Linked DNA regions of Homo sapiens: regions 1, 2 and 3 are each linked to region 4. Evidence: fine-mapped expression QTL. A gene starts in region 4. Each other region holds a variant in brackets. All regions are shown on one strand. Distances are from middle to middle.

What was found. PIP is the estimated chance that this variant, and not a neighbour inherited with it, causes the effect.
Region 1: its variant is fine-mapped to the expression of MGLL in whole blood (TOPMed, PIP 0.96).
Region 2: its variant is fine-mapped to the expression of MGLL in lymphoblastoid cells (GTEx, PIP 0.93).
Region 3: its variant is fine-mapped to the expression of MGLL in monocytes (Quach 2016, PIP 0.95).

The regions. Positions count from the first base shown.
Region 1 is chr3:127,756,996-127,764,995 of GRCh38, reverse strand. All of the region lies in intron 3 of MGLL (monoglyceride lipase), which reads left to right. Among named protein-coding and RNA genes, the nearest start is that of MGLL, 62 kb to the left of the region's middle. RefSeq lists enhancers at 1-16, 137-186, 1,977-2,026. The variant C/A (reference allele first, on the strand shown) is at 3,366.
Region 2 is chr3:128,737,505-128,745,714 of GRCh38, reverse strand. All of the region lies in intron 1 of RAB7A (RAB7A, member RAS oncogene family), which reads right to left. Among named protein-coding and RNA genes, the nearest start is that of RAB7A, 15 kb to the right of the region's middle. The variant G/A (reference allele first, on the strand shown) is at 3,511.
Region 3 is chr3:127,725,343-127,733,342 of GRCh38, reverse strand. All of the region lies in intron 3 of MGLL (monoglyceride lipase), which reads left to right. Among named protein-coding and RNA genes, the nearest start is that of ABTB1, 56 kb to the right of the region's middle. The variant G/T (reference allele first, on the strand shown) is at 3,712.
Region 4 is chr3:127,819,385-127,827,588 of GRCh38, reverse strand. It overlaps MGLL (monoglyceride lipase), which reads left to right and starts at 5,074. Exons shown (of 8, transcript NM_007283.7): 1 at 5,074-5,280; 2 at 5,751-5,895. The coding sequence starts at 5,271. RefSeq lists a silencer at 4,113-4,632.

The sequences.
Region 1 (8,000 bases), 62 kb after region 4:
CTTATTTGCTATGTGACTCTGGGCAAGTTACTAACCTCTCTGCATCTCAGTTTTCTCATCTACAGTAAAGGATGAGTCAAAGTCTCTACCCCATAGGGTCAGTAGGGGGATTAAAAAGGAACCAAATGAGCTCCTCTATGTGGGGGGCCTGACCCACAGAGAGTACTCCATAAATATTGGCTATGTTGGGGTGACTACTTTTCCGCCTTAGGAAAACCTGATTTGACTCCAGTCACAGTTTCATGCTAACTAGTGTGGCTTCCAAATTTGAAAAGTGGTGTGATATTACCTACGGCATGGAGTATTTATAAGAATTCTCAGAGAGAGATGATATTCATATTTAACATTAATTAATATTTATCATATGCCTGATTATCGATGCAAAGCTTTTCAGACGTTGCCTTGAACCTCATTACAGCCTTGGAGTAGGTGTGGTAATTATTACAGATGAGGAGAGCACGTGAGCTTCCCAAACATGCACCTCTTCTCACCCACAGCAGAGCACAACTGTGGCCCGGGCCTCTCCTGGGGGCTTTCCGTCCTTCTTCTCTTTTATTCTGCACCACAAGTATATGGCCTTGATATCTGTACGCCCATTCTGCAGGCAGGGAGACATAGTAAAGTCACAAGGTGCTGAGAGGCCAGTGGGACCCCTTCCACTCCAGGTCTGCAGCCTCGTTCTCTCTGGCACGACTTCTTCCCCAAATGAGACAGAGTTGCCCTTTGTCTTTAGGCCATTAGGCTTCCTAGAACCCCAGGAGTCTGTGGTGGGAGCAGATGCTCACAGAGGAGAGTGTGTGCCCCTCCCAGGGCCCATCTTTATCATGTCAGAGGTGGGTTCCTGCATCTGAGAGGAAAGGGGAACACAGCTGGGGGTGGTATTCAGGCAACTTCAGCATCAGGCATGGGGTGCCACCCAGAGAGGCCATGTGATGGGCATTGGGGATTTGCAGCTTAGACAGTGGCATGCAAGCTCCGAGAAGCTGGAGGAGCGCCTGAGAGCCGGGAGGGAGGAGGGTGGAGGTGGAGCCTCTTGCTTCCACCCATGTCGGAACCTGGGTCTTCCTTTCCTGTCTTCCCAGCACGCAGCTGAGACTGCACACTGAGGTGGGTGTAATGACTACGGCGACATCAGTAAACTTAGCTGCTCCTTGAGGACAAGACCCATCTGCAGTTTAGCCTTACCTCCCCCTCCCCCACACAGGGGTTCAGTCTCTGGGAGAGTTTGAGGACGGGAGGGCAGTAGGAAGAGGAGAAGGGGCGGGAGGGGAAGGAAGGAAGCTCAGCGAGGCAGCACAGAGGGAAGGACCACAGTGGCCGAGCTTAGGGCACAGACAGAGGTCCACTCCAGGCCAGGTCAGGGGCTGGATTGGCCTCAGCACAGGTCCAGGTGGGGCTCCAGGGAGATGTCCCCACCCAGGTTGCTTGGGCAGGGTCCGAGATCCAGATGGCCGTGGCTGCTGTGGCAGGCCCCTTGGCAAGCAGAAGCCACACTGTGGCATGCTTGTGAGGGTCCCCCATTCTACTGAGTCAGAGCTGGCCTTGAGCCTGAGGGGCCCGTGCTACCACAGCAACTGGGTACAGCCCAGTGTTTTCTGCATCCAACCTGGCTTCGCGGGGCCAGAGGGTGAGAAGAAAACAGACATCACTCTAGGTCCCCAGAAGAAGCCGTTTCGGTCTTTGGCAGTTGTTGCTATCATCCTCAGACTGGCATCTTCAAATCCATCTTGGAGATGATGTACCCTCCGGAGCCTTTCTTTCTGGCACACCTGTCCCCTGGCTGCTGGGGCAGCCTGCACACTCACCGCACACCTGACATCCTATGAATCCACATCGCTGCACCCTGCCTAGGTAATAAGGACCTTGCATGGTGGTTGTTGTTTTTCTATCTCCAAATACTGAGTATTTCCCTAAAGACATTCAAGGAGGGTGGATCACACATCTTTCCCCAATCAGAGTGACACACTGTGATCCAGCACACATGAAGATCAAGGGCAAAGCTGGGGAGGCTGCCATGGGGGGAAGGCAGAGTCTGGAGTGACACTGGGTTCCAGTCCCAGCTGCAGGGCACAAACACAGACCTGGCCTGAGGCGTCCCCATCACATCTCCTGTCTGTGAAGTTGAGATGGTAATAATGGTACCTAGGTGTAGAGCTCCAATCTGTAAACTTACCATTGATAAATTGCTTGGAACAGGCCCTGGCCCAGAGCAGCATGCAGGAAGTGCACCTGTTACTACGTGCATACTCATAACTGAAGCTGCAGTAATGACCAGAACTGCTCTCATTTGATGGTCCCTGACAGAGCAGTGGGCTGCAAGGAACCTGCAACGAAGCCTCTGCCCCTCCCTTTCTCATTGTACAAGGGTAGGGGACAGACTTCGAGGTCCCACCAGTTGGTGGCAGTTTTGGACCCGGATCTCAGGCCCCAGCTCCCAGAACCAGGTTCTGTGCACCTCTCCACCCATTTCGTAAATTAAACTTCAAAATCACTCTGGCTGCAAGTGGACCAGAAGAAAGGACTCCTCAAAGGAACTTTAAAATAGGTAGGGTCAGGGCTGGCTTCGCTTTGACACAGCCCTTAAGAAAGGCTGGGGGTGGGAATGGGCAGAGTCTGTCTTGTGAGCTGAGCCTTTCTGAAGTGGGAGCTCAAACAGCATGTGACCAGGAAATGGCTGGCCCACCAAGAACTAAAAATAAACGGCTGTAATGCTGCCAACCGTCAGGGCAGGCGGGGAGGACGCGGAGAGCTCAGGAGCAGAGCCCAGTGGGGTCCTGCTCAAAATGAAAAGAGAACCGCATGCCGGCAGACAAGGTGCTTCATGTGTCACTAACGTGGAAGCAATAAACCACGACTGCACTGTCAGGCTGCCCTTTCTGAAGGGCTTCATATTCTCTATTTCATTTCATTTCATTTTCCAAGGCAGGTAAAGCCATCGTCATTTTCATTTTACAGGAGAGACAACAAGCCAGGAGTGGTAGAGCCAGGATCAGAATTCCAAATCACAGATCTATTAAGCTGTGTTCTCGGTGTCTTGGTTTCTCCCCTGTTAGAGGTAAAGGGAGAAATTAAAAAGCAAACAGAGGACCCAAACCTTGCATGGGATCCTCAGATGCAGTCACAACTCCCCGGCAAGTGCGCTGGGTGCACTACGCATATTTAGTGCTTGTCTGGGCATTTGAGAATGAAGCTCTGCCTGGAGTCCCTCCCTGAAGAGCTGGGGTCCCAAGGGCCCGGCCGATGAAGCGAGGAGCCGAACGTGCCAGGAGGGAGGCAGCCTGCGTGGCAGTCCAGCTCTGCCCACGGCCGGCTGTGCGCCAGCCCTCTCTGTGCCTCCGTGTCCTCACCAGCCAAAAGAGGAAACC[C/A]ACAGTACCTTTGTGGTGGACTGGTGTAGCCCAGTCGCTTAGGGGAACACGTGGACACACACACAGAAGGCACTTGAAATGCAGCTTGAAGGGCAGTTTGCAGTCTCTGGTCCAGGCAGTGCAGAAGTGGCCTCTTTGACTGCTGTCTCTGAGTGTTCTGTGGCTTCCACCCTGGCTGTGGAGGTTAGTACTGCTTGCTGGAGAAGGAGGAGCCCTGGGGAGGCCTCCACCCTGGTCCCTCAAAGCTTCTCATCCCCACCCTAAACTAAGCCAGCACCCCCAACACAACACGGTGGCTCTAACAAGACACAGCAGCAGGGGAGAAGCCAGTTTGCCCAGTGGGCCCTGGAAAGTGACGCAGTCTGGTCATCAGCACCCCAGAAATCCCTCCCAGGCGGTGGGCCCCTTGATAGTGCGAAGGGTCCGGATGGCCACAGGGAATTGTACGTTATCTGAACACAGCAACTGGGGCCTCTGCTCTCCGCATCTGTGTGGCACCTTGCTCATAGCAGCTGCTCAGTGAAGGCTTGCAGAATTACAAGGCATTTCACAGAAATGATGGTTTCTTTGGATACGCTCAAGTTCACACTTGTGAATCCTGTATGTGTGGGTATGAATTTGGCCTGGAGGATGAGCCCTGTTTAAAGAAAATCAAATAACGCTTGCCCAGCTGGAAAAATCCATGACTTCTGTGCTAATAATTTTTTCCACGGATCACCCCATTTAATCCTACGGCAGCAGAGTAAGGCAGGCAACGTCCCTATGGAGGAAACAAGCTCAGAGATGCTGCCTGATTTATTCAAGCTCACAGTCATTAGGGGGCAAAGTCGGACTGAAATTCTTACACACTTGCACCTTGCTACAGTTTTAACTTTTGGGAAAATGCTTTGGGGTGCAGAGCCGCAGGTTCCATTGGACCAGCGCCCCCCAATCAGTGCTGTGCCTCTGAGCAGCTTGGCGTGGGGCACAGCCCCCAGGCGAGTGGCCCTGGGGTTTCTGCATCATCTGACAGAAGTGCCGCAGCGGCTCCAGGAATAGCTTGCGACGCGCAGTCTGTCAGGGGTGCCGTGCCAGCTCCTCACCTCGCCTCCTGCCAAGGCTCTGCTAGAAGATGCTCTGACTCCCAGAGGTGGCGCCTGAGCCTGGATGAGGGACAGAGCCAGCATCGGGGCTGACTGCAGGGGGAGAACAAGGTCCTTTCACCTTCATTCCTCAGCACCCACGTGCCCTGTGTGGCATGGTGTGAGCCCAGAGGGGTTGGTCCCCTGTTGACAAGTGGAGCTTAGCCCAGAGAGTTCTGTTATGTGAACCTGCTGGGTGGAGGCAGAGTGGCCTGGCCTACTCTTTATACCTGTGTGTCCAGGACAGTCACTTGACCTCTCTGAGCCTCAGATTTCCCATCTGTATGTTAGGCCTGAGGCTTCCTATGGAAACGTTAGCTCATAGGACCCCACACAAACTCAATGTCCCATAAATGGATGCTTCCACCCCTGTGTGGCTCTGCCCTTCCCTCCCGTCATCTTTCCTTTGCTTTTCTTTGAAAGCTGTGTGCACATCCAGCGCTCTCCCTGCTACACCACTGGCTTCCTTTCTCCAACGCAGAAAACCAAGCCGTCTAAGCAGGGCCTGCCCGCAAAGACAGTCAATGTGAGAGGCAGGGGCCAGCTGCCTCCTCCTCAGAGTCGTGGAGAAGTGCTGGATCATTCAGACCCCATAATCATAATTATTTCTCTCCTCAGTTATTGTACAGACGCCACCAGATTGGAAAAATCACTTAAAGGTTTTATTCAGTGGAAGCTTTCTTACCAAAAAAGGAGAATCATCTGAAGGCCAAAGGGACCGATTCCAAGGACCCTGTGTTGAGTGAGGGAGAAGGAGCTGGGCTGATCTGAGCAGGTAGGAGCTCTGCATCAGGCCACTCCTTCCTCCCAGTCCACACGAGAACCAAGAGTCTCTGAAGTCATCGGGATCTCTGGGCTCAAAGCATCTCTGTAAAGTGGCACTGCTTCTGTGAATTACATTCTCTCTTCCCTTCCTTGGAAAATGACCTCTAAGCAGGGGAAGGTGCAGTGAGACATGAGAACATGCCCACAGCTGAGATTTTTAAATGGCCGCAGGTGAACACAGACATCCCTCTTGAGCACGTGATTCAGAAGAGAGGCACACCCACCTCCAGTGAGCATCTACTGTGTACCAGGCACGGTGCTGAGAGCCTTGGTCACATCAGGTGTGGTAGGGGACCAAGGGAGGGGTAAGGACAGTCCCGCAGAGGTTGGAGATGTTAGCCAGGGTCACGCATAGCAGAGAGAAGGGTTGAGAGCCGCCTGACTCTGTGTCTCAGTTGCTGGGGTCACAGAATAGGAGAGCTGGTTTATAATAATGGACGCTGTGAGAAATAGCTGCCAGGGCCGGGCGCAGTGGCTCACGCCTGTAATCCCAGCACTTTGGGAGACCGAGGCAGGTTGATCACTTGAGGTCAGGAGTTCAAGACCAGCCTGGCCAACATGGCGAAACCTCATCTCTACTAAATACAAAAATTAGCCAGGCTTGGTGGCATGTACCTGTAATCCCAGCTAGCTACTCAGGACGCTGAGGCAGGAGAATCACTTGAACCTGGGAGGCAGAGGTTGCAGTGAGCCTAGATCACACCACTGCACTCCAGCCTGGGCAACAGAGCAAGACTCTGTCTCAAAAAAAAAAAAAAAGAAAAGAAAAGAAAAAAAAAAGAAAAAGAAAGAAATAGGTGCCAGGAGCCCCCAGAATATCCTTTCCTGTGAGGGTCATGTTTACAACTTACAGCCAGTGCACTTTTGCACATTTTCAAGAATGATATTTTTCTCCCTAGCAATTGCTTGTCATGATATGAAAAATCGACCCATTATCCCATTGTTTTTTATAACACATATCTGATTTTTAAAGACCCTTTTAAAGGGGAAGACAGAAAAGAAAATTACAGGTGACTTCCCCCATTCTCCTCGCTCGGTACAGCCGAATTGTTAGGAAAGGAGACTGGCACTTTGTCAGCACTAACAACGGAACACACCATTTAATTATACAAGGCTCAGGGGCTGCTCTAAGAGGGCCAAGCTGACCTGGGCTTCTGTCTAGCTTGAAAAACTTCTAGCTATTGACTTTTTGCAAGCTCCTTCACATCTCCAAGCCTCATTCGTGTATTTATTCATTCGTTCAGTCTATAATGTATTAGCTTGATGCCCAGTTACCAACTCCAGGCATGGTGCTGGGCACAGGAGATGCAGCTGTGAACAAAACAGACACAAGTCCCTGCCCTTGGCAGACAATGAGCAGCAATAAATGACTTTAGGGTATGTCCATTGGAGATAAGTGCCACAAAGCAAAATAAAACCTTGGAGGAGGAGGGCGGGGCAGTGGGGGCAGGGGGCCATGCTCAAGCTGCTGGCTCCACTGAGAAAGTGGTAGTTGAGCAAAGACCCAAAGGAGGCAAGGAGGAGCCTCACAGATGACCAGGGGAAAAGGGGGTGGCCAGTGCAAAGGTCCTGGGGCAGGAGGGTGCCTGACTCATGAACAGTCGGGAGACAGGAGGTGAGGTGAGAGGAGAGCACTGTAGGAGAGGAGACAGAGGTCGTGTGCAGCTGGCCACACAGGGCCCAGAGATCCTCAGTTTTCTCCTCTATAAAACAGGAACAGAAGCCCCCAGGCAGCTCCCGTACAGATTTGATGGAATAACATCAGCCAAGTACCTACAGGTGTGCTAGGTGCCCCACCAGTGTAAGCAAGTGTGCGTTTCTTCCCGGCACTCCTGTATCAGCAATCTGTTTACAAGGTGTCGATGACACGTGGCTGAACACATCTGGGTCAGGAGGACCCTGAGCTTGGATTCGGATCTACCCAGGTTGGGGTCAAGAAACACTCTCTCGGAGGCAGGTCCCCCAGCTTCGTGACACTGTCACAGCTTTCTTCATTGTCCCCAAGGTTCTTTGGGTGCTTTTTCTTTTAGGGAGTTCAATGAAGAGTTTCTTTCTCTGGTGTAGTCACTTCACTTGGAGTTACGATTCCTGCTGGAGTTGGCAACTGGGCATCTAGCTAATCTCAGTGTTCTTTGAAAGCGGAGAGTTCCAGAGCTAAGTCATCAATTTCTTGAAGCCAAAAGCCATCTCACTGGTTGTATATATGTGTGTGTATGTCTGTGTGCATGTGTGTCTGTGTGTATTATATATTATATACAGGCACTGGGATATGCCTAGGGCAGTTTCTAATTTAAAAATTAGAAATCAATAAATATATGTAGATTGCTGCCTTCCCGACTGAGCCAGTAGTTACTGCAATAATGCTGCATAACAAATACCCCCGAAACTCAACAGCCTAAAACAACAACTCATGCTTTCTCCTGTGTCTGTAGGTCAGCTGTTTTAGGCTGGGCTTGGCTGGGTGTGGCTCCAGGCCTCAAGTTGGGTTCGGCTCTCTCCACATGTCTGTCAGCTTCCAGGGACAGTGGGCTAGGAGAGTCATGTTCTTTTCTAGGACAACAGCAGAAGCTGTTGATGGTGGTGATGATTTTTAAAGTCTGCACTCAGACTTTCTTACCATCACTCTGTCCACCTTCCATTGACCAAAGCATGTCACATGGCCAAGCCCAACATTTATTTACAGGGTGGG
Region 2 (8,210 bases), 920 kb before region 4:
TTCTCCCCTTCCCTGCTCTTCTGTGTCTTTTCTTAATAAGATGGTGCTCACCCGGGCCTGGTGGCTCAGGCCGGTAATCCCAGCACTTTGGGAGGCTGAGGCATGTGGATCACTTGAGGTCAGGAATTCGAGACCAGCCTGGCCAACATGGCGAAACCCCGTCTCTACTAAAAATACAAAAATTAGTTGGGCATGGTGGTGCGCGCACCTGTAATCCCAGCTACTCAGGAGGCTGCGGTGGGAGAACTGCTTGAACCAGGGAGGCAGAGGCTGCAGTGAGCTGAGATCATGCCACTGCACTCCAGCCTGGGCAACAAAGCAAAACTCTGTCTCCAAAACAAAAAAAAAGATGATTCTTAATAAACTACTGTTTCTTCCAAATTTTACAGTACAACTGAAACTCCAGAAAGATGGGTCACATCTAATTTTGCTGTTTTGCACCCTCCCTGCAGAATTGGGGCAGTGCATACCCTAGTTTAGGCAACAGGTAGACACGCAGTACTTGAAGTTAACCAGAAAAATTTAATGAAAAAGTGACTTCAGCCGGGCGCGGCAGCTCACGCCTATAATCCCAGCACTTTGGGAGGCCGAGACGGGTGGATCATGAGGTCAGGAGATTGAGACCATCCTGGCTAACACAGTGAAACCCTGTCTCTACTAAAAATACAAAAAAATTAGCCAGGTGTGGTGGCGGATGCCTGTAGTCCCAGCTACTCGGGATGCTGAGGCAGGAGAATGGTGTGAACCCAGGAGGCAGAGCTTGCAGTGAGCCGAGATCGCACCACTAAACTCCAGCCTGGGCAACAGAGCGAGAATCTGTCTCAAAAAAAAAAAAAAAGAAAAAGAAAAAAAGAAAAAGTGACTTCAGAGAAGTATCAAGGAAACCTCAACAGCAAAAAATTATTACAAGTGGCTCTGAGCCAAATGCAGGGCAGAAACACACACATTGTATGTGACCTCACACTGACATTACCTGGTTAGCTTTTCACAAGGACCAATGGCAACTTTAAATCCTGTGGGCCTGTGTTAATTGGGCCAAAAGGTCCACAATAGGATAAGGAATTCTTGTGAACCAGGCTGTGCTGGGAGCTATACAAGTGGCACAGGTGTGGTCCCCAAAGCAGCTTAGCAGATCACTTGGCTGTGCTGCTGAGGTTCCCAACTGGATAATGAAGGAGTGTGGCCTTTCCACTGTGATGTTTTCTTTTTATTACAGTGGAATGTAGTCGATAATAATGCATCATATTTCAAATAATAATGTATCATATTTCAAAATATCTAAGAGAATAAATTTCAAATGTCTCCCAAATGGATCAGTCCCTCTAAGAGGGCTGACCCAGGTATGGGCCTTTCTGTCTGCCCAAATCTATTGGTGAACCCCTCTAATAAAGTTTTCATCTCAGTTATTGTACTTTTATGCTCCAGAATTTCTGTATAGTTCCTTTTTATAGTTTCTATCTTTTTGAGACTGGGTCTCACTCTGTCACCCAGTGGAGTGCAGTGATGTGACCATAACTCAATGCAGCCTCCAACCGCAGGGCTCAAGTGATCCTCCCACTCTAGCCTCCCAAGTAGCTGGACTACAGGCATGTGCCAATTTTTTTTTTTTTTTAAGAGCAAGAATTTGGCCAGGTGCGGTGGCTCACACCTGTAATCCCAACACTTTGGGAGGTCAAGGCAGGTGGATCATCTGAGGTCAGGAATTCAATACCAGCCTGGCCAACATGGTGAAACCCCGTCTTTACTAAAAATACACAAGTTAGCTGGGTGTGGTGGTGGGCGCCTATAAACCCAGCTACTCGGGAGGCTGAGGAGGAGAATCGCTTGAACCCAGGAGATGGAGGTTGCAGTGAGCCGAAATCATGCCACTACACTCCAGCCTGGGAGACAGAGCGAGACTGTCTCAGAAAAAAAAAAAAAAAGAGAGAGAGAAATTATTTTGTCATGTTGAATAGGCTGATATTGAACGTATAGGCTCAAGCAATCCTCCCATCTTGGCCTCCCAAAGTGCTGGCGTTACAGGCATGAGCCACTGCACCCAGCCTCTTTCTTGATTTTGTTCAGAGACTGTATTTCTGCTCTCCTTCAGTTCTTCATCTGTGGTTCCTTTAGTCCACTGAGCATATTGCTGACAGTTGCTCTAATGTCTTTGGCTAGCAATTCCAATGTCCAAGCTGAGACCCCATCTCTACAAAAAAAATTAGTCAGGCATGGTGGTACACACCTGTGGTCCCAGTGAGAGGTGACAACATGCTGGTGGCCCTTGCTCGCTCTCAGCACCTCCTCGGCCTCGGCGTCTGCTCTGGCCATGCTTGAGGACCCCTTCAGCCTGCTGCTGTACTGTGGGAGCCCCTCTCTGGGCTGGCCAAGGCTGGAGCCGGCTCCCTCTGCTTGCAGGGAGTTGTGGAGGGAGAGGCATGGGCGGGAAACTGGGGCTGCGCGCGGCACTCGCGGACCAGCGGGAGTTCCGGGTGGGTGTGGGCTTGGAGGGCCCCACACTCGGAGTGGCCGGCTGGCGCCACCGGCCTGGGGCAGTGAGGGGCTTAGCACCCAGGCCAGCAGATGTGGAGGGGGCACCGGGTCCCCCAGCACCGCCAGCCCACCTGTGCCACATTCGAATTCTCACCAGGCCTCAGCTGCCTCCCCGTGGGGCAGGGCTCTGGACCTGCAGCCCGCCATGCCCGAGCCCTCCTGCGGTGGGCTCCCGTGAAGCCCGAGCCTCCCCGACGGGCACCGCCCCCTGCTCTGCAGCGCCTGGTCCCATCGGCAGCCCAAGGGCTGAGGAGTGCAGGTGCGCAGCATGGGACTGCTGGGCAGCTCCGCCCGTGGCCCTGGCACGGGATCCGCTAGGCGAAGCCAGCTGGGCTCCTGAGTCGAGTGGGGACTTGAAGAACTTTTATGTCTAGCTAGAGGATTGTAAATACACCAATCAGCACTCTGTGTCTAGCTAATCTAGTGGGGACTTGGAGAACCTTTATGTCTAGCTAAAGGATTGTAAATACACCAATCAGCACTCTGTATCTAGCTCAAGGTTTGTAAACGCACCAATCAGCACTCTGTGTCTAGCTCAAGGTTTCTAAATGCACCAATCAGTGCTCTGTGTCTAGCTAATCTAGTGGGGACTTGGAGAACTTTTACGTCTAGCTAGAGGATTGTAAACACACCAATCAGCACTCTGTGTCTAGATCAGGGATTATAAACACACCAATCAGCATCCTGTCAAAACAGACCAATCAGCTCTCTGTAAAATGGGCCAATCAGCAGGATGTGGCTGGGATCAGATAAGGGAATAAAAGCAGGCTGCCCGAGCCAGCATGGGCAACCCGCTCGGGTCCCCTTCCACACTGTGGAAGCTTTGTTCTTTCGCTCTTTGCAGTAAATCTTGCTGCTGCTCACTCTTTGGGTCTGCACTGCCTTTATGAGCTATAACACTCACTGAGAAGGTCTGCAGCTTCACTCCTGAAGCCAGCGAGATCACGAACCCACCGGGGGGAATAAACAACTCTAGAC[G/A]GGAGGAACGAACAACTCCAGACGTGCCACCTTAAGAGCTGTAACACTCACCGTGGAGGTCTGCAGCTTCACTCCTGAAGCCAGCGAGACCACGAACCCACCAGAAGGAATAAACTCTGAACATGTCCGAACATCAGAAGGAAGAAACTCTGGACACGCTATCTTTAAGAACTGTAACACTCACCGCTAGGGTCTGCGGCTTCATTCTTGAAGTCAGTGAGACCAAGAACCCACCAATTCCGGACATACTAGCTACTCAGAAGGCTGAGGTGGGAGGATCGCCTGAGCCTGGGAGGCCAAGGCTGCAATGAGTCGATGAGTCATGATCGCACTACTATACTCCAGCCTGGGTGACAGAGCAATGCCCTGTCTCCAAGGAAAAAAAAAATGTTTGTGTGTATGTATATGTATGCGTGTATGTATCTGTGTATATACGTATAAAACAAAACAGACGCAAATAAGACAGCAGTACTGTCCCACAGACAAAGAATGAAACAGAAGAGTTAAAAAACAAAAGACACAGCCAGGCATGGTGGCTCATGCCTGTAATCCCAGCACTTTGGGAAGTGGAGGTGGGAGGATTGCTTGAGTGCAGGAGTTCGAGACCAGCCTAGGCAACATAGTGAGACACCATCTCTATTTCGTAAATAAATCTATTTAAAATAAAAATAAAAAAAGACATGGAAGTAGGAAATATACTGTGTGATAAAAAAAATTTCTAGTCAAAGAGAAAAGATAATACAATAAAATACTGGGAAAACTATACATTTGGGAAAAGATTCCGACATATTATACCTGGCTAAGTGCTAGAATTACTAGAAGAAAACATTGTTTTTATTGTCCTGGGGGTGGGAAAGGCCTAAGCATAATATGAAACACAGAAAATGAATTGACAGATGTGACTACAGAAAAGTCTCTATGTTACAAAAACATGCCATCAGCCAAACAAGACCAAGAGATACAAGCCAGGAATAATGTTTGCAACACGAAAAGGATCAAAATTCTTGCCATATAAAGTTTATAAACTGGGAGAGAGGTGAGGTACAAGAACCTCACATGGGCTTTAGAGAACAAAAGCCAATTCACAAAAGACTATAAATATACAAAAGCAGAAAGTGAAAGTTAAAAAAAATTTTAAGTATATATAAAAAAATGTAGTTAATATTTTTTCTACATTTATTATACAATTATATATACTTAAATTTCTACAAAATTTAAGTGAATATAAAAAAGTAGTTAGTATTTTTCTAGTTTAATCTATCAAACAAAGAAACACAAGTCTTTTTTTTTTTTTTTTTTTTTTTTTTGAGACATCTCCCTCTGTCACCTAGGCTGGAGTACAGTGGAATTATCATGGCTTCCTGTAGCCTCAACCTCCTGGGCTCAAGTGATCCTCCCCTGAATCTCCCAAGTAGGTGTGACTACAAGTATGTGCCACCACACCCAGCTATTTTTTTTTTTTTTAACTTTTTGTAAAGACAGGGTCTTACCATGTTGCCTAGGCTGGTCTTGAACTCCTGGGCTCAACCGATCCTCCCACCTTGGCCTCCTAAAATGCTGGCATTACAGGCATGAGTGACCCACCAGGCCTGGCCAAAACACAAGCCCTCAACAATGAGACATCATTTAAATTTTTCCCATTCATTAAACTGGCAAGGATTAAGAAAACTGACAATTGACAAGTATATAAATGAAATTCTCAAACTACAAAATGTAAAGTATACAACCTTCCTGAAGGCTATATGGCAATGAAAACCAAATTTTAAGTATGTATACTCACTAAATCTTAAGGAAATGATTAGATAAGTAGGAAAATATAAATATTAAATACTTTTCTTTCTCTGTTGCCAGGCTGGAGTGCAGTGGCGCCATCTCGGCTCACGGCCATCTCTGCCTCCCAGGTTCAAGCGATTCTCCTGCCTCAGCCTCCAGAGTAGCTGGGATTACAAGTGCACGCCACCACACCCAGCTAATTGTTGTATTTGTTTTAGTAGAGACGGGATTTCACCATGTTGGTCAGGATGGTCTTGATCTCCTGACCTCGTGATCCACCCATCTCGGCGGCCTCCCAAAGTGATGGGATTGATTGCAGGCGGGAGCCACCGTGCCCAGCCCTTTTCTTTGTTTTTGTTTTTTTTGAGATGGAGTTTCGCTCTTGTTGTCTAGGCTGGAGTGCAATGGCACAATCTCGGCTCACTGCAACCTCTGCCTACCAGGTTCAAGCAATTCTCCTGCCTCAGCCTCCCAAGTAGCTGGGATTACAGGCATGTGCCACCATGCCCGGCTAATTTTGTATTTTTAGTAGAGACAGGGTTTTACCATGTTGGTCACGCTGGTCTTCAACTGACCTCAAGTGATCCACCCGCCTTGGCCTCCCAAAGTGCTGGGATTACAGGCGTGAACCACTGCGCCCGGCCCTATTAAATACTTTTCTTAAAGAGCTGGAAATAACTGAAATGTTCATTTAGAGGATTGTTAAATTATGATCAATATTATACAGTCATTAAAAATAGTATGTACTTATAAGAAAAGCTGACTATATGGTTAAATTTTTAAAAAGCTAATAGCAGAAGAGTATGTATTTTATGATCTCATTTAAATTTTATAAAAAATAAACGTTTTGAATTATAGCCATCAAATTATCCAGAATGACAGAAAAAAACTGTTCACTTTAAGACTTTTTTTTTTTTTTGAGATGAAGTCTTGCTCTGTTGGCAAGGCTGGAGTGCAGTGGCGCGATCTTGGCTCACTGCAACCTCTGCCTCTCAGGTTCAAGCAATTCTCCTGCCTTACCCTCCTGAGTAGCTGGGATTACAGGAGCGCACCACCACACCCAGCTACTTTTTGTATTTTTGGTGGAGACGGGGTTTCACCATGTTAGTCAGGCTGGTGGTCTTGAACTCCTGACCTCAGGTGATCCGCCCACCTCAGCCTTCCAAACTGCTGAGATTACAGGCGTGAGCCACCACTCCCGGCCCGCTTTAAGACTTTTATACTGCTTCTGTAATTTAGAAACGAGTACACATTTTAAAGAAAAATCTAACTGCCTACCAGTGCCTCTTGCCTCTCAGAAACGAATGGGCAAAGCTCCATATACTCAATGGCTAACAGGGTCCTTAAAGTTTCTGATGGTGTCAACTAACCAGTTAGGATGTTGCAAAAGCCACAGCAGTATGTCCAAGAGTCAGAGAATGTCAAAATACGAAAGGATCTTAAGGATTACACATTACTCTCGTTTTTCAGAAATGGAGACTAAAGCTTAGTAACAGATTTGACAGCCATACTATGGCCTTGCTTAAGAAAGCTTCTACAATCCTACAGCTTCTGACACACTGATTTCAAACAATGTGAAGAATTTACAGGCATTTTTTTTTCCAACCAGGTATGACAACAGATGTATTGTACATGTATCTATCAAAAGCCATTTGAGAAATATCCATTTAGTTCTTTCTTTCAAATGGTTAACATTTGGGGAAAAACAGGTAAATCAGTCTGGGACTTACCCTTAAGGCCCCCTCCTAAGGTAGGAAAGATACATATACAAAATCCACAACTATAAGATAATCTGTGGCAAGCCCCAGGGATTCAGTAAAAAGAACACTATAGACGTAAGTGGTCAAGAAAAGCTTTAAAAGTGGACTGGTACCTGAGTCAGGCAGGATGCCAACAGAGTACTGGAGCTAGAAAACAGAGATGAAGGGGAATTGACAGGAATCAAGATAAAGGAAGTAGGGAACAAAGTGTGGTAAGGAAAAGGTGAATAAAGCAACTCAGAGGAATATGTGTCTTTATCAAAAAAAACAAAGCCAGGAAGGCAAGCTGGAGACCATTTGTGGAGAGCCTCAAACAAGAATAATGGAAAAACATAGGGTTCTTGACGAGTAGTGGCTCACATCTGTAATCCTAGCACCTTGGGAAGCCAGGGTGGGCGAGCTACTTGAGCCCAGAAGTTTGGGACCAGCTGGGCAATATGGCCAAGACCCTGTCACTATCAAAAAAACAAAATTAACTGGGCGTAGTGGCACACAACTGTAAGCCCAGCTACTCAGGAGGCTGAGGTAGGAGGATGACTTGAGCTCAAGAGGTCAAGGCTGCAGTGAGCTGTGTTCAGGCCACTATACTCCAGCCTGGGCAACAGTGAGACCTTGTCTCAAAACATTAAAATATAAAATAAAAACAAGAACAAATCCTTAAAAAAAAGGGGAGTGGGGTTTCTAAAGACAGGGCAGAGCTGGGCATGGTGATTCATTCCTGTAATCCTAGCACTTTGGGAGGCCAAAATAGGAGGATCACTTGAGGCCTAGAGTTTGAGACAAGCCTAGGCAACACGGTGAAACTCTATCTCTTAAAAAAAAAAAAAAAAAAAAAAAAAAAAAAAACTACAAAAAAATAGCCAGATGTGGTGGCATGTGCCTGTAGTCCCAGCTACTGGGGAAGTTGAGATGAGAGGATCACCTAAGCCTGGGGAGGGCGTGGCTGCGGTGAGCCATGATGGCACCACTGTACTGTAGCCTGAGTGACAGAGTGAGACCCTGTCTCAAAAAAAAAAAAAAGAGAGACAGAAAGATAGGTGGCTCACACATGTAATCCCAGCACCTTGGGAGGCTGAGGCAAGCAGATTGCTGGAGCTCAGGAGTTCGAGACCAGCCTGGGCAACATGGTGAAATCCCATCTCTATCAAAAATATAAAAAATTAGCTG
Region 3 (8,000 bases), 94 kb after region 4:
GTGCCCATTTTTATGGCTATTTCTTGATGATATGCTAAACAAGGGGTGGATTATTCATGCTTCCCCTTTTTAGACTATACTGGGTAACTTCCTGACGTTGCCATGGCATCTGTAAACTGTCATGGCGCTGTTGAGACTGTAGCAGTGAGGACAACCAGAGGTCACCGTTGTTGCCATCTTGGTTTTGGTGGGTTTTAGCCGGCTTCTTTACTGCAACCGGTTTTATCAGCAAGGTCTTTATGGCCTGTATCTTGTGCCAAGCTCCTATCTCACCCTGTGACTTAGAATACCTCAACCGTCTGGGAATGCAGCCCAGTAGCTCTCAGCCTCATTTTACCCAGCCCCCGTTCAAGATGGAGTTGCTCTGGTTCAAACGCCTCTGGCACTCTCACCCTCCTTCCACCCACCGCTCCTCCCAGCTCTGCTCAGACAGCCCTGGGCTGGAAAAGTCACTGAACCTCCTGAGACCCAGTCATGGTGTCCGTCAGTGCACTCGGTGGCCTCATAGACATGAGGTCTCCAGTGGACATTGGCTGCCATTTGTTGTGGTTACTTCCAGGGTTAGCCTCTGCCCAGCCCTTCTGTTCCTATTGTATCCCACACTTAGAAATTTGTGAAGTCTTCAGAAGAACATTTCCCAGTGGCCTCCCTGTTTGCACATCTGCAGGTGCTGGTGAGTGTGAACCACCTGTCCCTGCCTGACACGGAACCAGATCCTTCTCAGGACTCACCTGGGGTGAGCAGCTCTAGGCACAAGCCCTGGGGTCTGGGCGTGTAGGGAAGATGCCAGCCCTGTGTTTTCACACAGCGGGTTCTTTATCTTGTTAAGAAGGCTTTTCTTTCCCTCCTCAATCTTCAGTCCCCTGCTTCCTGCTGTGTTTTGCCCTGAGCTGTGAGAGTGACAACCCTGAGTCTGGAGTTCACACCCTGTACTCAAGTCCCTCCCTGTGGCTCACCTACTGGGGGCTGAGCGCTGCCCTTTAGTCTCTCCAGGGTCTGTTTCCTTTGCTAGAAAATGGGGAAAGAATCCCTACCTCACAAGCTTGTGGGGAACAAATGAAACAAACTCTGGGAAAAGTGCTTTGTACGTTATGAACTCTCACACAAATACCAAGTGCTGTTTTTACTACTTTTTAAAGGCTTCGTCTCACTTTCCTTACGCAAAGCTATTTTTTATCAGCTTTTTCTTCTGTAAGAAAATGAATGCTAAGAAAGCCTGGTTCCCTGAAAAAAGGGAAGGGGGAGGCTGGCTCTTCCCATTCCAGCAGTAACAGGATCACCAGGGTTCTATAGGTTCCCGGGGGACTCATTTTGTACATGGTAACAACATGGAAAGTTATTTTCAGACAGAAATATTTTGTAGGAGACTATTTAATCATTCAACAAAGGATTATCACGAATTTATTATACTTCGCATCGAATGCAGTGCTGGGGTGTTTTAAGAGTACCTAGGATCTGTTTTAATTGGATATGGTAAGACACACAGACATGAACATTACTGTCATGAGGGGAGAAGTTTATTCCATTGACAGGTCCCTAGAAACAGATGGCAAAGCATGCCACGCAGGGCCCTGCAGGGGAGCACGGGGCAGGTCAGGGGCCAGAGGGAGAGGGAACTGTGGGCCGGGGCTTTTATTGTGGCTTCCGAGGGGAAGAACAGGTGAGGTGCAGTGAGCAGGTTTAGGATTGATTAGTTTGAAGAATTTCAGGGCTCTCAGATGCAAGGCTGTCCTTAATTGTCTGTTGCCTGGCCCTGAGGTGATCAGGACAGGGGGACAGTGGCCTGGAGCGGGGAGAGTCTGATAAAGGCAATTGAAGTCCCATCCATGATGGGGTGGGACTGTCTTTCCAGGATCAGCAAGGCCTGAGATGTTAAAGCATCAAAGTACAGCAAATTTAAAAACATAGTTAATACATAGAGACACAAAACTAAAAATATCTTAAAGTCTGCAAAGCAGGGTTCTTTAAAATAATAATAATAATAATAATAATAATAATAATAATAATAAAAGCCACCAAGAGAGCAGCCAGGCATAGTGGTGTGCGCCTGTAGTCCCAGTACTTGGGAGGTTGAGGCAGGGGATTGCTTGAGCCCAGGAGTTTGAATCCACCCTGAGCAACATAACAAGACCTTGTCTCTAAAACAAATGTGTAAATACATAAATAAAACCAGGAGAAAAAGAATTCTCATTACAGATGCAAAACTACTTCTCAACAAACTCTGTTTCCATGGTGGTCAAGGAAACATATTGCATCAGCTATAGCTAGAGTAATGGAATTGAGTTTCTTTGGTAAGTGGCCATTATGGAAACACTGCCTACAATTCATTTCAACAGACATTGATCAAACACCCACCTTCTGCCAGGCCCGTGCCAGGAACCCTAGGGAATGCACAGGTGAATAAAGTATGATCTTTGCTCTCCAAGACGGCCCTGGCAGACATGGGCACATGCACGGTGCATTCCCTCCCCAAGTCCACACAAACATCATCGTTCACTCAGGACTGTTTTGCGCCCCATCCAGCCACACTCACCTTAGAAGCCACTGCAGCACAGAGCCATGTGGCACCCCTGCTCTCAGGACCCTCCATCTATAGGGTGGGGGATGGTGCTAGAGGAGAAAACGAGGGAGGACTGTGATCAACTCACATGTGACAGGGGCAAGAAGTGCTTCAGGGTTATGGAAGGGGTATGTTGCCTTTGAACTTGCAGTAGCTTCTCCAATCTCCCTGCCCACCCTAAGCTCTCCATGACTCACCTCCTCTTCCGGAAGCTGCACCTGCATTTAGGGAATTACAGTGGATGCCATGGATGAAGGGATTTAAAGGGCCTTAAAGGACTGGGGCAGGGTGAGGACCTCAAGGAGAGGCTGCCTGTTCAGAGGCACAGGGCAGGAACGTGTGCGTATGCTTCAGGAACCGTGGGCAGGTGGGTGTGCATGTGGCTCAGATTGTGGCAGAGGAACAAGTAGAAGCCTTCCTGGGAGGCTGGGAATACTGGGCTGGGATGTGCAGGCTGCATTCTCAAACAGTGGGGGCCGTCGGACCACGACACCATCAGAGCAGCTTCCGGAAGAGGAGGTGGGTCATGGAGAGCCTGGGGTTGGGCAGGGAGATTGGAGAAGAAGCTACTGTAAGTTCAAAGGCAGCAACAGTCTCCACCCCTACCGGGATATAACATGCAAAGAAGGAGACTGGATGCAGAAATCTAGAAGGACTTGGGGACCAATTGAATGTAGAAATAGAATTAAAGTCAAAGACGACAGCCCTGTTTTGAGCCTGAATAATTTGGAAGGCTCACAGGGCCTTTAACCGCTATGTGAAGGAGAGCCAATTATTTGCAAGCAATCTGAGGAGCTGTGGAACAGCCAGGAGAGTCTGACCACAGGTTGGCAGGATGGATCTGTAGCTCTGGAAAGAAGCCAGAGTCAGAAACAGTTTATCCAGGAGATGCCTACATTACCATCAGAGTCAAAGCATGGGAGTGATGCGCTTGGACCAGGGAGAGCTCGCAGAGTGACCTGGGGCCTCCTGCATGTAATGTGTGTCAAGGGCAGGCTCCTATAATGTCTCAATAATATGGGGGCTGGCTCATGAATAAGCAAACCAGTGGAGCTGAGCAGAAATCCAGAAATAGACTGGGCTTGAGTGAAAAGGGAACTTTAACACATGATAAGGATGACATTGCAATTCAGTGAAGCAATGAAGGACTT[G/T]TTCATAAATTCTGCTGAGACGATTACAAACCATCTACATTTTGGAACTTCTTATAGATAGTGTTGCAACAATATTGTGGACATACTAAATGCCACTAAATCGGTACACTTTAAAATGGTTAATTTTTTGTGAGGTGAATTTCACTGAATTGAAAAAAAGGTCTGGTAAAAGATGGGTATCTCCTACCCTACACCAAGACAAAATTCAAATGGGTCAAAGATTCGAATGTAAAAAAATGAAACTATCTAGAGATGGATGATGGTGATGGTTGCACAAGAATGTGAATGTATTTAATACCACTAAACTGTACATTTAAAGTGGTTAATTTTTTAGGTCATGTATATTTCACTGCAAAAGAAATATAAGTCACAGAAAATATGGCTGAATTCCTTTATACCCGTGGAGTGGGGAAGGCCTTTATCACCAAGAATCAAAATTCAGAAGCCATAAAGTGAAAAGATTGATAACTTGACTATTCAAAAATAAGAATCTCAAAAGAAACCAAAAATAAGAATCTTCTGCTTGGCTAAATACAATGTAAACAAAGTCAAAAGACAAATGACCAACTAATATACAAACAGCTCCTAAATGTTAAGAAGAGATGCGAAACCCCCATAGAAAAAAATGAGCAAAGACATGAATACTCAGTTTACCAAAAAAGAAGTAATGGCTCTTAAAATCTGAGATGTTCAACCCACACTTTGTCTCCTATCATATGAGCAAAAACCTAAATGTCAAACACACAGTCTGCTGGTCATGCCAAGAGAAAGAGGCCCTCTCCCGCATCTCACTCATAGAGTGAAAGGTGACACTCCCACATGGAGGGGAATTTGGTAATACCTACGAAAATTACATATGCATTTACATTTCAGCCAAGCAATCCTGCATCTAGGCACATACCCTGAAGATACAACATCATGCAGATGACATAAAATAGTCCAAGTTTATCTACCGCAGCCAACTGTTTAATAAATAAGAGCTTGGATACAATCCAAGTGTTTTGCGATGAGAGAGTGCTTGAAAAAACTATGGTTCACCCCCACAGGGCGTACTACGCAACAGTAAGGCAGAATGGAGGCAGGTCTGGGATCTGTGACACAGAGTGACCTCCAGAATATGTTAAACGTGAGGAAAAGAAAACCTGGTAGAAATCCAGAAATAGACAAGACTGTTTCTAGAGTAGGATATGTGGCATACTATCTTTTAAGTAAGAAAGGAGGAAAAATAAGAATAGATGGGTGGATGGATAAATAGATTAGACAGAGAATAGATAGATGATAGACTAGATGGATAAATGGATGGATGGATGGATGGATGGATGGATAAACAGGTAGTTTTCTTATTTTTGCAAAAAGAAATGCTTAGAGGGAAAAAACAGAAAATAATTAGAATGATTAACGCTAGGGAACGAGCGGGGAGATGGAGGAGATGGGGTAGAAGTGAGACTTCACTGGATGAATTTTTTAATATATTTCTGACTGTTGTGTCAAGTACACGTTTTCATATTTGGAAAAGAAAATTAAATTGAAAAGCAAGAAGGAAAAACCTACAAATGGAAAGAAATTTAATTTGAAGTTAATGCATCTAATTATCAAATTAGTAACATAAGCACACAGAGAAAATAATTATAACCTGTTTGTAAGAATTTAAACTTCAAACACAATACTCTAGTCATATTATGATTGAACTATATTCTAAAGACAAAAAAATGCAAAGCAATTCTAGCTTCTTGCCGTAGGCTTATTATTGGTGGCAATATTGGTATTGTAATTTTGACGCTATGCTATAAGTAAATATGTTAATGCTATTAGGAACCAAGATTTTCAGTGTAAAAGAAAAGAGATAAAATACAAAATCAAAGAAGGTAAGAGAAAACTTTAGAACATTGATTTCTTGCTCTGTTTTTTTTTTTTTTTTTTTTTTTTTAGCCTTGCTCTGTTGCCCAGGCTGGAGCCCAGTGGCACGATCATGGCTCACTGCAGCCTTGACCTCCTGGGCTCAAACGATTCTCTCACCTCAACTTCCTGACTAGCTGGGACTACAGGTGTGCACCACCATGCTAGGCTAATTTTTGTATTTTTTGTAGAGATGGGGTTTTGCCAAGTTGCCCAGGCTGGTCTCAAACTCCTGGGCCCAAGAGATCTGCCCACCTTGGCCTCCCAAAGTGCTGGGATTACAGGCATGAGCCACTGCGCCTAGCCAGAACATTGATTTATAGTTGAAAATATCTATATGGACTCATTTTTTAAGAATTAAGTTTTCTTAAGTCTCATGTAAAAAAAAAAGAATTAAGTTTTTCAGCTCTGCCTAATGAAGAGCATGAAAGCAAAGGCACCTCGGTGGCATTGGACACTCCCAACTTTAAATCTTGATGTTTAAACACTGAAAGGAAGTGGGGCTCCCTGGAGAAATGGTTAATTCCAAATCTGGGACAAGGAAATTATAAGGTGAGCCTAGTACATTTGTGTTGAGGAAGGGGGGAAGTTCTTGGTAATGAATGGGAACACAGAAACAAGTCAAATGACAGACCATGACGGGAAACAATCAGATACAGGATGTAAGGCATTTACTAGCCTGGCCCCTCTAAGACTAAAGGAACATAGCAAACAAATACAGCATAAGAGTTTTGCATCCTGGTTCTAAAACACCAGCTGTAAAATACTTGGAGACAATGGGGAAATTCGAATTTGGATTGTATATTAGATGATATTAGGGAGCTATTGCTAATTTACTTAGGCAGGAAAATAGTATTGTAGTTTTGAAGAGAATGTCACTAAGCATGCTGAAGTGTTTAGGGTGAAGTGTTTTAATAGTTAATAGATTATTTTTATAACACTTTTTATTCAGAAATACCTTCAACTTCACAGAAGGTTTGCAAGAATAGTATAAAGAACCCCTGTAGGCCAGGCGCGGTGGCTCACACCTGTAATCCCAGCAATTTGGGAGGCTGAGGTGGGTGGATCACAAGGTCAGGAGATCGAGACCATCCTGGCTAACATGGTGAAACACCGTCTCTACTGAAAAATAGAAAAAAATTAGCTGGGCATGGTGGTGGGCACCTGTAGTCCCAGCTACTCGGGAGGCTGAGGCGTGAACCTGGGAGGTGGAGCTTGCAGTGAGCCGAGATTGCGCCACTGCACTCCAGCTTGGGCAACAGAGTGAGACTCCTACTAAAAAGAAAATAAAAAATAAAAAAAAATAAAAAACCTTTAGATCCTTTACCCAGATTTGTCTGTTGTTATAATCTGCAACTTACTTTTCTTTCTTTCATTCTTTTCCTTCTTTCTTTCTTTCCTCTTTCTTTCTTTCTCTTTCTTTCTCTCCCTCCCTCCCTCCCTTCCTTCCTTCCTCTCTCCCTCCCTCCTTCTCTCTCTCTTTCCCTCCCTTCCTTCCTTCCTCTTTCTTTCTCTTTCCTTCCTTCTGTCTTTCTTTCTTTCTTTTCTTTTCTTTCTTTCTTTCTTTCTTTCTTTCTTTCTTTCTTTCTTTCTTTCTTTCTTTCTTTCTTTCTTTCCTGCTTTCTTTCTCTTTCTTCTGTTTCTTCTCTTTCTTTCCCTTTCTTTTTTTTTTTGAGATAGGGTCTCACTTTTGTCCAGGCTGGAGAGCAGTGGTGCGAGCACAGCTCACTGCGGCCCCAACCTCATGGGCTCCAGTGATCCCAAGTAGCTAGGATTACAGGTGTGCACCACCACGCCACCAATGTCCAGTTTCTGTTTTAAATTCTTTTTTAGCAACAGGGTCTGTCTTGTTATATTGCCCAGGCCAATTGTGAACTCTTGGCCTCAAGCGATCTTTCCACCCTGGCCTCCCAAAGCACTGGGATTACAGATGTGAGCCACCTTGCCCAGCCTGCAATTTACTTTTAAAAGATTCAGCCATTTTTATATTCATAAATGTGTATGTATACAGCAAATAAAATAACAACTGTTGAATAAAGATAGTAGGCATATGGGTTTTTATTGGAATGTTTTTTTCAGTGTTTTTGTGCATTTGAAAGTTTTGTAGTAAGAAGCTGGGGAGGAGCCCTATTTCAAACGTTGGAAGATCTTCAGGATATGGTGTCAAGTGAACGAAGCCCTACACAGAGCAGGATCTGTTGTGTGTTTCTTTGTGTTTAGGACCGGGGTAAAAATTAGGATTTATATTTGTATTTGCTTGTAAAGAGGCTGAGACACTAAGAGAAGAGTTTAGGGGAAGATAGGGAATCGGGTGGATGGGAGGAAGTGGGAAAGGGACCGTCAGTGTACATCTTTCATGCCACTTTGATTTTGTACCATGTGAATCAAATGTC
Region 4 (8,204 bases):
TAAATAAATGGACATATATACCCATGTTCATGGATTGGAAGACTTAATAGTAAAAATGTCAGTTCTCGAAGAATATACATGTTTAATGCAATTCCTATCATAATCCCAGCAAAATTTTTAATGAATATAAACAAGGTTATTTTAAAATTTATATTGAAAGGTGAAGGAACTAGAATCGTTCAAAGAATCTTGTAGACTGAGTGTGGTAGCTCACATTTGTAATCCCAGTGCATTGGGAGGTCACAGTGGGAGGGTGGCTTAAGGCCGGGAGTTCAAGACCAGCCTGGGCAACATGGAGAGATTCCTTCTCTACCAAAAAAAAAAAAAAAAAAAAAAAAAAAAAAAAGTCTTGTAAATGAAGAATAAAGTGAGAGGAACCAGCCTATTCAATTTCAAGATTTATAGAGAACTTCAATAATCAAGACTGTGTGGTATTGGTGGAGGAATAGACACAGACCAAAGAAACAAAAGAGAGAACCCAGAAATAGACCTGTACAAGCAGGCAGCTGAATTTTACAAAAGTGCAAAAGCAATTCAGTGGAGGAAAGGCAGCCTTTTCAACAAACTGTGCTGGAGCAATGGGACATGTAGAGACAAATGAACCTTGATCTAAATCTCACACTCCAGACAAAAAGTAACTCAAAATAGCTTACAGACTTAAGCATAAAATGTAAATCTATACAACTTTTAGAGAAAAACACAGGAGAAAATCTCTTGAGGTAGGACTACACAGAGTTCTTAGACTTGACACCAAATGCATAATCCATAAAACAAAAAATTGATAAATTGTTTCTGATCAAAATGAAAACTTTTGCTCTGCAAAAGACCTTGTTAAAAGGATTAAAAGACAAGCTACAGACTGGAAGAAAATATTTGCAATCACACATCTAGTATCTAGTAGACTAATGTCTAGAATATACCAAGAACTCTCAAAACTCAACAGTAAGAAAACAACAAGCAAACAATTAAAAAATAGCCAAAGGCTGCAATGAACGGAGATCGTACCAACGCACTCCAGACTGGGTGACAGAACGAGACCCTGTCTCAAAAAAAAGAAAAAAGAAAAGAAAAGAAAGAAAGAAAATAGCCTAAAGGATGGGCGTGGTGGCTCATGCCTGTAATTCCAGCACTTTGGGAGGCTGAGGCCGGTCAGATCGCCTGAGCTCAGGAATTTGAGACCACCCTGGGCAACATGATGAAACCCCGTCTCTACTAAAATACAAAAAGTTAGCCAGGTGTGGTGGCCTGCACCTGTAGTCCCAGCTACTAGGGAGGCTGAGGCATGAGAATTGTTTGAGCCTGGGAGGTGGAGGTTGCAATGAAACAAGATGGCGCCACTGCACTTCAGCTTGGGCTACAGAGTGAGGCTCAGTCTCAAAAAAAAAAAAAAAAAAAGGGGGGTGGGGGGCAAGAAAATAGCCGAAAGACAAGAAAAGACATTTTACTGAATGGGATATATAGATGGCAAATACGCACATGAAACAACATTAGCCATTAGGCAAAAGCAAATTAAAAACCACAGTGAAATATCATCACTACACACTTAACAGAAAGACTAAAATTTTTAAAATGGTGACAACACTACATGCTGACATGAATGCTGAGAGACTGGTTCTCTCCTACACTGCTGGTAGGAATGTAAAATGCTACAGTCACTCTGGAAAACATTTTGGCATTCTCTTTAAAAACTTGCAATTTCCCTACAGCTCAGCAATTGCACTCCTGGGCCCTCATCTCAGAGAATGAAGACTTAGGTTCACACAAAAACATGTACACGGAGGTTTACAGCAGCTTTATTCTTAATCAACAAACACTGGAAACAACGCAGATATCCTTCAGCAGATGACCTGTTAGACACACTGTGGTACTTCCATACTGTGGACTGCTACACCCAACCCACCTGGAATTATGCTGAATGAAAAGGTGAATCCTAGAGGTTATGTACTTTATGATTCTATTCATAAAATATCCTTGAAATGACAAAATTTTAGAAATGGAGAACAAATTAGCAGTTGCCAGGGGTTCTAGGGGAGTGAGGATGAGAGGGAAGTGGATGTGGCTATAAAAGCATACCACTTTGTGGGGTAGAGACGTTCTGTAGCTTGACTACAGATATTCTATCAGTGTCAGTATCCTGTTGTGATATTTACTGTGGTTTGTGAGAAGTTGCCATTGCAGGAAACTGAGTAAAGGGCACATAGCATCTCTCTTTATTATTTGTTACAACTGCATGCGAATCTACAATTATCTCAGAATAAGTTTAATTAAAAGAAAAAGCCAGATACAGAACAATACGATCTGTCTCTTAACTCCCAAATTCCCAGTTGGCTGGCCACACACCACAGTCTCAGTTCTGTCCATAACCAAGTTTGGGGGATCTCTTCAAGTTTGCAAATGTCACTTCTACTGAGATCCCTCTGACAACTTCAGTGAAGTCTCTCCTCAAAGCTTTTTTTTTTTTTTTTTTTTTTTGAGACAGAGCCTTGCTCTGTCGCTCAGGCTGGAGTGCAATCACTGCAACCTCTGTCTCCCGGGTTCAAGCGATTCTCCTGCCTCAGCCTCCCGAGTAGCTGGGATTACAGGTGCCCGCTACCATGCCCAGCTAATTTTTGTATTTTTAGTAGAGATGGGGTTTCACCATGTTGGTCAGGCTGGTCTCCAGCTCCTGACCTCAGATGATCCACCTGCCTGGCCTCCCAAAGGACTGGGATTACAGGCGTGAGCCACTGAGCCCGGCCTCTCCTCCAAATTTTCAAGCTGTGTATTTTAAATCATAAAATGTTAGAGCCAGGAACATTTGAAATAATGCCTTGATAAAAGCGTCCATCAGACCCCCGAGCACCCTTCCTTTCCATGAATTATAACCAACGGAAATCCGGTGCACTTAGCATGTCCAGCTTTGAGTGAAGCCCCCAAGCTTCCTGCCCCTGAGACTGCCGCCCCTAAACCTCTCTTGCATGGATTCTGTAGAGCTGCCCCGACCAGAAGTCACTTAGCCACTCCTCTGCTCCAGGCCTCGTGGCCTGCTGGAGGCCAGACAGTGGGTAAGTCACGCTCAGCAGTGCCTACAACTCAAGCCACTGCTCAAAGGCTGTTGTTTTATTTCTCAAGTTAGACCACAGGCTCTGTAGCAACTTGGGCCTCCTTGGACACACACAGTGTGACGCTGAGACACAGTCCTCAACGCTGCTATGGTGTAGAATTTTTTGCGGAGAAAGACAGGAAGGCCTCTTGAGGTCAGTGTGAGACAGGGACACTCCACTGGGGCATAGGTATATCACTCACAGGTTGAAGGTAGGTAGACTGAGGCTCAAAGAGCAAGCGGAGGAGCTAATGTTCAACCCAGGTGGTGTGGAGTCTCAGTCCAGTGGCCTTACCCTCCACGGCCACGTTGCTAGTTATACTGGACAGAGCTCAGACTGTGCCCTGGCCTGTGTAGATGCACCAGAGGTTTTATCTGGGGGTCACAGCCGCTGGGAACGGGAGAGTTGCTGGGGATTGCCAGGAAGGGACAAGGCATTTGTAGCCATGCACCATCTGCTTTTACACTACCCTAGAGTCAAGTGGACCCCCTCCAGCATTTTTTTTTCCCCGAGATGGAGTCTCACTCTGTCACCCAGGCTGAAGTGCAATGGTGTGGTATCGGCTCACTGCAACCTCTGCCTCCCGGGTTCAAGCGATTCTCCTGAGTAGCTGGGACTACAGGCGCATGCCACCACGACCGGTTAATTGCCCCTCCAGCATTGTATGTGTCTGACTGCAATGAAGTGTGAGTGTGTCTGTGTGCGACTGTGTGTGTATGATGTGAGTGTGTCTGTGTCTATGTGGGGGCCAGGTGTATAGTCTGCATATGTCTGTGCACCTCTGTGTCTCTGTGGGTTGTCTGTGCCTATGTCTCGGCTTGTGTGTGTGCATGCATGTGTGGTCTGTGTGTGTCTGTATGCATGTGGTATCTCTGGGATGTGTGTCTGTATGTCCCTGCGTGCAGTGTAGTGACTTTGGGAGTGCACATGTGTACACGTGTGGTGAGTGTGCGGCCCTGCGCGAGTTGTCTGTGTACGTGTGGTGCCTGTGGGTCTGTGTGCGCGCGTGTGCCCGTGGGTGTGGTGTGTCCTCCCGCGCTGAGGCTCCCATGAACCCAGCTCAGTTCAGGCCTCCCTGACAGTCCTCGGGCGGCCACCCCGGGGCGCGGCTGTCCACGAGGCGCGGAGGAGAGGAGTGCGTGGCTGGGTCGGCGGGCGGCGCCCCCGCTCCTCCCCGCGGGCCGGGCACACGTGGGCCCCGGGCGCCGCCTCCCCGCGCCGCCCGCCGCCCGCCGGGTCCCGCGCGTCCCCACCCACCTCGGGCCGCCCCCGCCGCCGAGCCGGCCCAGGGATAAAGTGGCGGCGCAGACGCCGCACCCTGTCGCCGCGAAGCCGGTCGCGCGCAGCTCGTCCCGGCCCTGGCCCGCCGCAAACGAGGATCCGCTGCGCTCGGGGAACGCGACAGCGGCGCTCGTGGCCCCGGTAACTGCCTCCCGGCCCCTGCCCCAGCCCGCCAGTGCCGCCGTCAGGGGTGGGGAGCAGCACTGGGGTCCCGGACACGCCCGGCGTGGGCTCCCGCTACCCATGTGTGCGTGTGTGTGTGTGCACGGTGTGTGTGCGCGCGTGTCCGAGTGTGCGCGCGTGTGCGCGCGCGCGCGCCCTCCCTGCTCCTTCGCACCAGCCCCCAAACCAACTTGTCCCCATCAACTCCATCTTTCTAGTCCCCACCTTCCCCGGTGCAGACACCCGGCGAAGCCCACCCGGTTTTCCCAGCGGCATTTCCGATGACAGCTTCGGGGCTACGTGTCCTGTGCTGTCGGAGACGCACAGGAAGCAAAGTTTGTGAGAAGCCTTGGGGGCGACTTTGCCTTGGGCACCCGCATTTGTGCGTCTGCGAGGTGCCTCGGTGTGCGCGGAGCTAGTTTCCCAGTTTCCCGGGCCCCTCCCTTCTCCGAGCCCCTCTAGCGATTTGTTTAGGAAAAGTGATGACATGAACTAGTAGTGGAGAATCGCAGCGCCGCTCCCCGCCCTGGGGAGGGAGGGGAGCCCCGGAGAGCCTGCCGGTGGGAGCTGGAAGCAGGCTCCCGGCTGAGCGCCCCAGCCCGAAAGGCAGGGTCTGGGTGCGGGAAGAGGGCTCGGAGCTGCCTTCCTGCTGCCTTGGGGCCGCCCAGATGAGGGAACAGCCCGATTTGCCTGGTTCTGATTCTCCAGGCTGTCGTGGTTGTGGAATGCAAACGCCAGCACATAATGGAAACAGGTTTGTCATGTATCCTTGGAATTTCAGATGGGAGGAATAATCTGAGTATCATCCACCTCATTATTGTGCCCACTTGAAACTGTTCCTTGGAGATTTTAAGATAGATGGGTCTTCTTGCAGCTGGGTCTTTGTACCCATAGAGCTGACTATAATTTCCACTTGATTACAGCTAAAATAGTCTTTAAGATGAAGTTTCCTGAAATGATTTAAAATAAACACAGATGGGAAGGGGGAAAAACTGTAATGAGGCACTTAAAAAATAAAGTGAGCATTTTCTTAAGAACAAATGGGATTTTTCAGTCTTGGAGAGGTTTGCAAGAAATGTATGTATGTTTTAAACCTTTGAAACAGAGGGGTTTTTTAAACTGCTTTTAAAAAAATGTTACTGACTCTGAACTAGACTTTTCTCTCCTATCCATACATGTTCTTGAGATATTTCTGACTTTGGAATATGTCACTTTTCCTTCTAGGACCTGAAGACCCTTCCAGCATGCCAGAGGAAAGTTCCCCCAGGCGGACCCCGCAGAGCATTCCCTACCAGGACCTCCCTCACCTGGTCAATGCAGACGGACAGTACCTCTTCTGCAGGTACTGGAAACCCACAGGCACACCCAAGTAAGTCTTCCCCAGAAAGTCACCCCAGGTGACAGGGGAGCATGGCCCCTGCTTCTCCTCTGGTCGTTATCATGTGCCATCTGGGGCGGGGCCGCTTTCTCTATGACCTACTTCCCCTGCCGTTTTAATGTTAGGCTGAGCAATGTTAACAAAGCTAAAATGTATACTTTATAATTTTTAAATTTAAGAAGCAGGAATTCTTTTTTCATTATAACAACTCAGATATGGATCCTACCGTATGGCAATTTTCAAAAATTCCACATGACTTTATTTTTTGTACTGGAGTTGATTTCCGGTTGTACAGGCATTCATTTAAAATCAAACCCGACAATTAAGGAAAATCCCCTAGATGGATGAGAAACCCGAAGTAATACATATATCTTCACCTTTGCTCACTTTTCCTGCTTGTTTCTGAGCTTCTGAAGATGGCATACATGTGTCACCAGGAAGAAAGGGGCCTGGGTATTTCCTTCTGATTCCTTGCCAGCTCAATTACTTTGTACATTTTCCATCAAGGATTTGTCTTGCTATTAGAAGCAAACATTGGGACTATACACAAGACAGCTGGTCTCCTGCTGCTGCTCCCTCCTCTTGGATGAAGCAGGAAAACCCTGCTTGTTTGTGTTATTTGGAAAAAGAATTTATTTGTGGTAACCAATTGGCCTGGTGACAAGAACATTTCCTGTTCCAGGGACATTTTACCTGTTTTGTAGGCCTCTTGTCTCCTAGGGATCATTGTGTGGTTGGATTATGTCTCTCTTTGTGCTCCAGTAATCACCCAACCCTCACACAGGTGTAAAATTTCTTCTCTGTCTTCATCAAGGTATCTATGATCCAGGGAGCTGCACGTTAAAAACACAGAGATATGGACTTTTAAAACCCGGCATAGAGTCATAGCTTCAGGGCAGCTACACAGACTGGCTATGGTTTCTCTCTAGTGTTTTCAAGTGGGTAACGTGCTGAGAAGAGTTCCTACCAGTTCTGGTAATACATTTCTTAAAGAATGTGTCTGTACGTGCATACGCATTAGAGGAAGTGGGGGGGTTGTTGAGCATTATGATGCTAATTAATCATTAATTCTCCACTCTGACTTAACTGGCTGTAGAATTGCTCAATCTTGGATTAATTTCTAACAGATTAGTGGTTTGTGGTAATTTGATCAATATACAGAAAGAAGACAAATAATTGAAAATAGAAGTTTTTAATGTCTGAGTCTCAGACTTGGGGGGCTTTGTTGGTTAAGTAGTGAGGTTGTCCTAGTTCGAAGTCAACAAAAATAAAGAGGTTCTGCAGTCCTGGCACAGGGGGAGGGTGGTGGGTGAGTGGGTTAGAAACGGTCAAGTTGGCTGCCCTGCCCTCCCTTCGCCTGCGGGTGGTTTTCACAATCTCTGTGCTGAAGTTGCATTGCAGGGAGCCCTCTCTGCTCCGTTGCTTTTGCTCTAGTTAGAGATGATAACTCAACTTCTTAATTTAAACTGAGCTGCCTCTTGGATGTCAGCGTCCGCCTTGTGGTGGGTGCTGATGGGCTTAAGAACAGAGGTGGATGGTTGAGGCAGTTCGGCCCCAGAATTTGGAAGAAACCTATGGGTCTAGAAAAGGTTAAGGGAAAAAAATATTGAGGGCAGGAGCACTGAAATAGAAAGAGCAACAGAACCATGAGCATGTATGAACACTTTCCATAGTGTTATCCTCAGTTTACCAAAGAGGAAGGGGCTGGCCAAGGTCCTACCTACCTGTCCTGCCCTGCCTCCAGCCCCTGGAGATGATGCAGAGGTCCTGGAGGCCCCTTGCCATGACTCATGTTAACCCTGTGCTTGCTGGATCTTGGGGCAGTCTTGGGGGTCCTAGGGTGGGGGCTCAGGGCAGAGGTTTGTGCCAGCCAGCATGAAACACCTCTGTATCTTCATAACCGAGACCAGCTGCTCAGCCTGCCTGCCCTCTTGCATGATCTGGGAGACCCCCGCAGCATCATTATAATAAGTATTATTATTATTGCCTGCACAGAATCATTCACTCTGCTTTTAGGAAGAGGGAGGGGACCTCAAGTCACCAGGGCTTCAATCTTTCCCCCCAGGCTTTTTACCCCTCTTCAGCAAAACTAGGGCCTCGCTTTGTGCAATCCTGTCTCCTCCCAGTTAGGAAGAAAGAAGGGAGGAAAAGCAAGGGGCAAAAAAAGAGGAGACTGAACCCTCCCCCACTACTGTACCAACTGTGGGCAAAACCTGGGTTAAGAGCACCTCATCTCCAGCCCCGCCTCTGCTATCTTTCTCATAGAGACCCTAGGGACCTCAGAAGCCACCCCGGGGGCC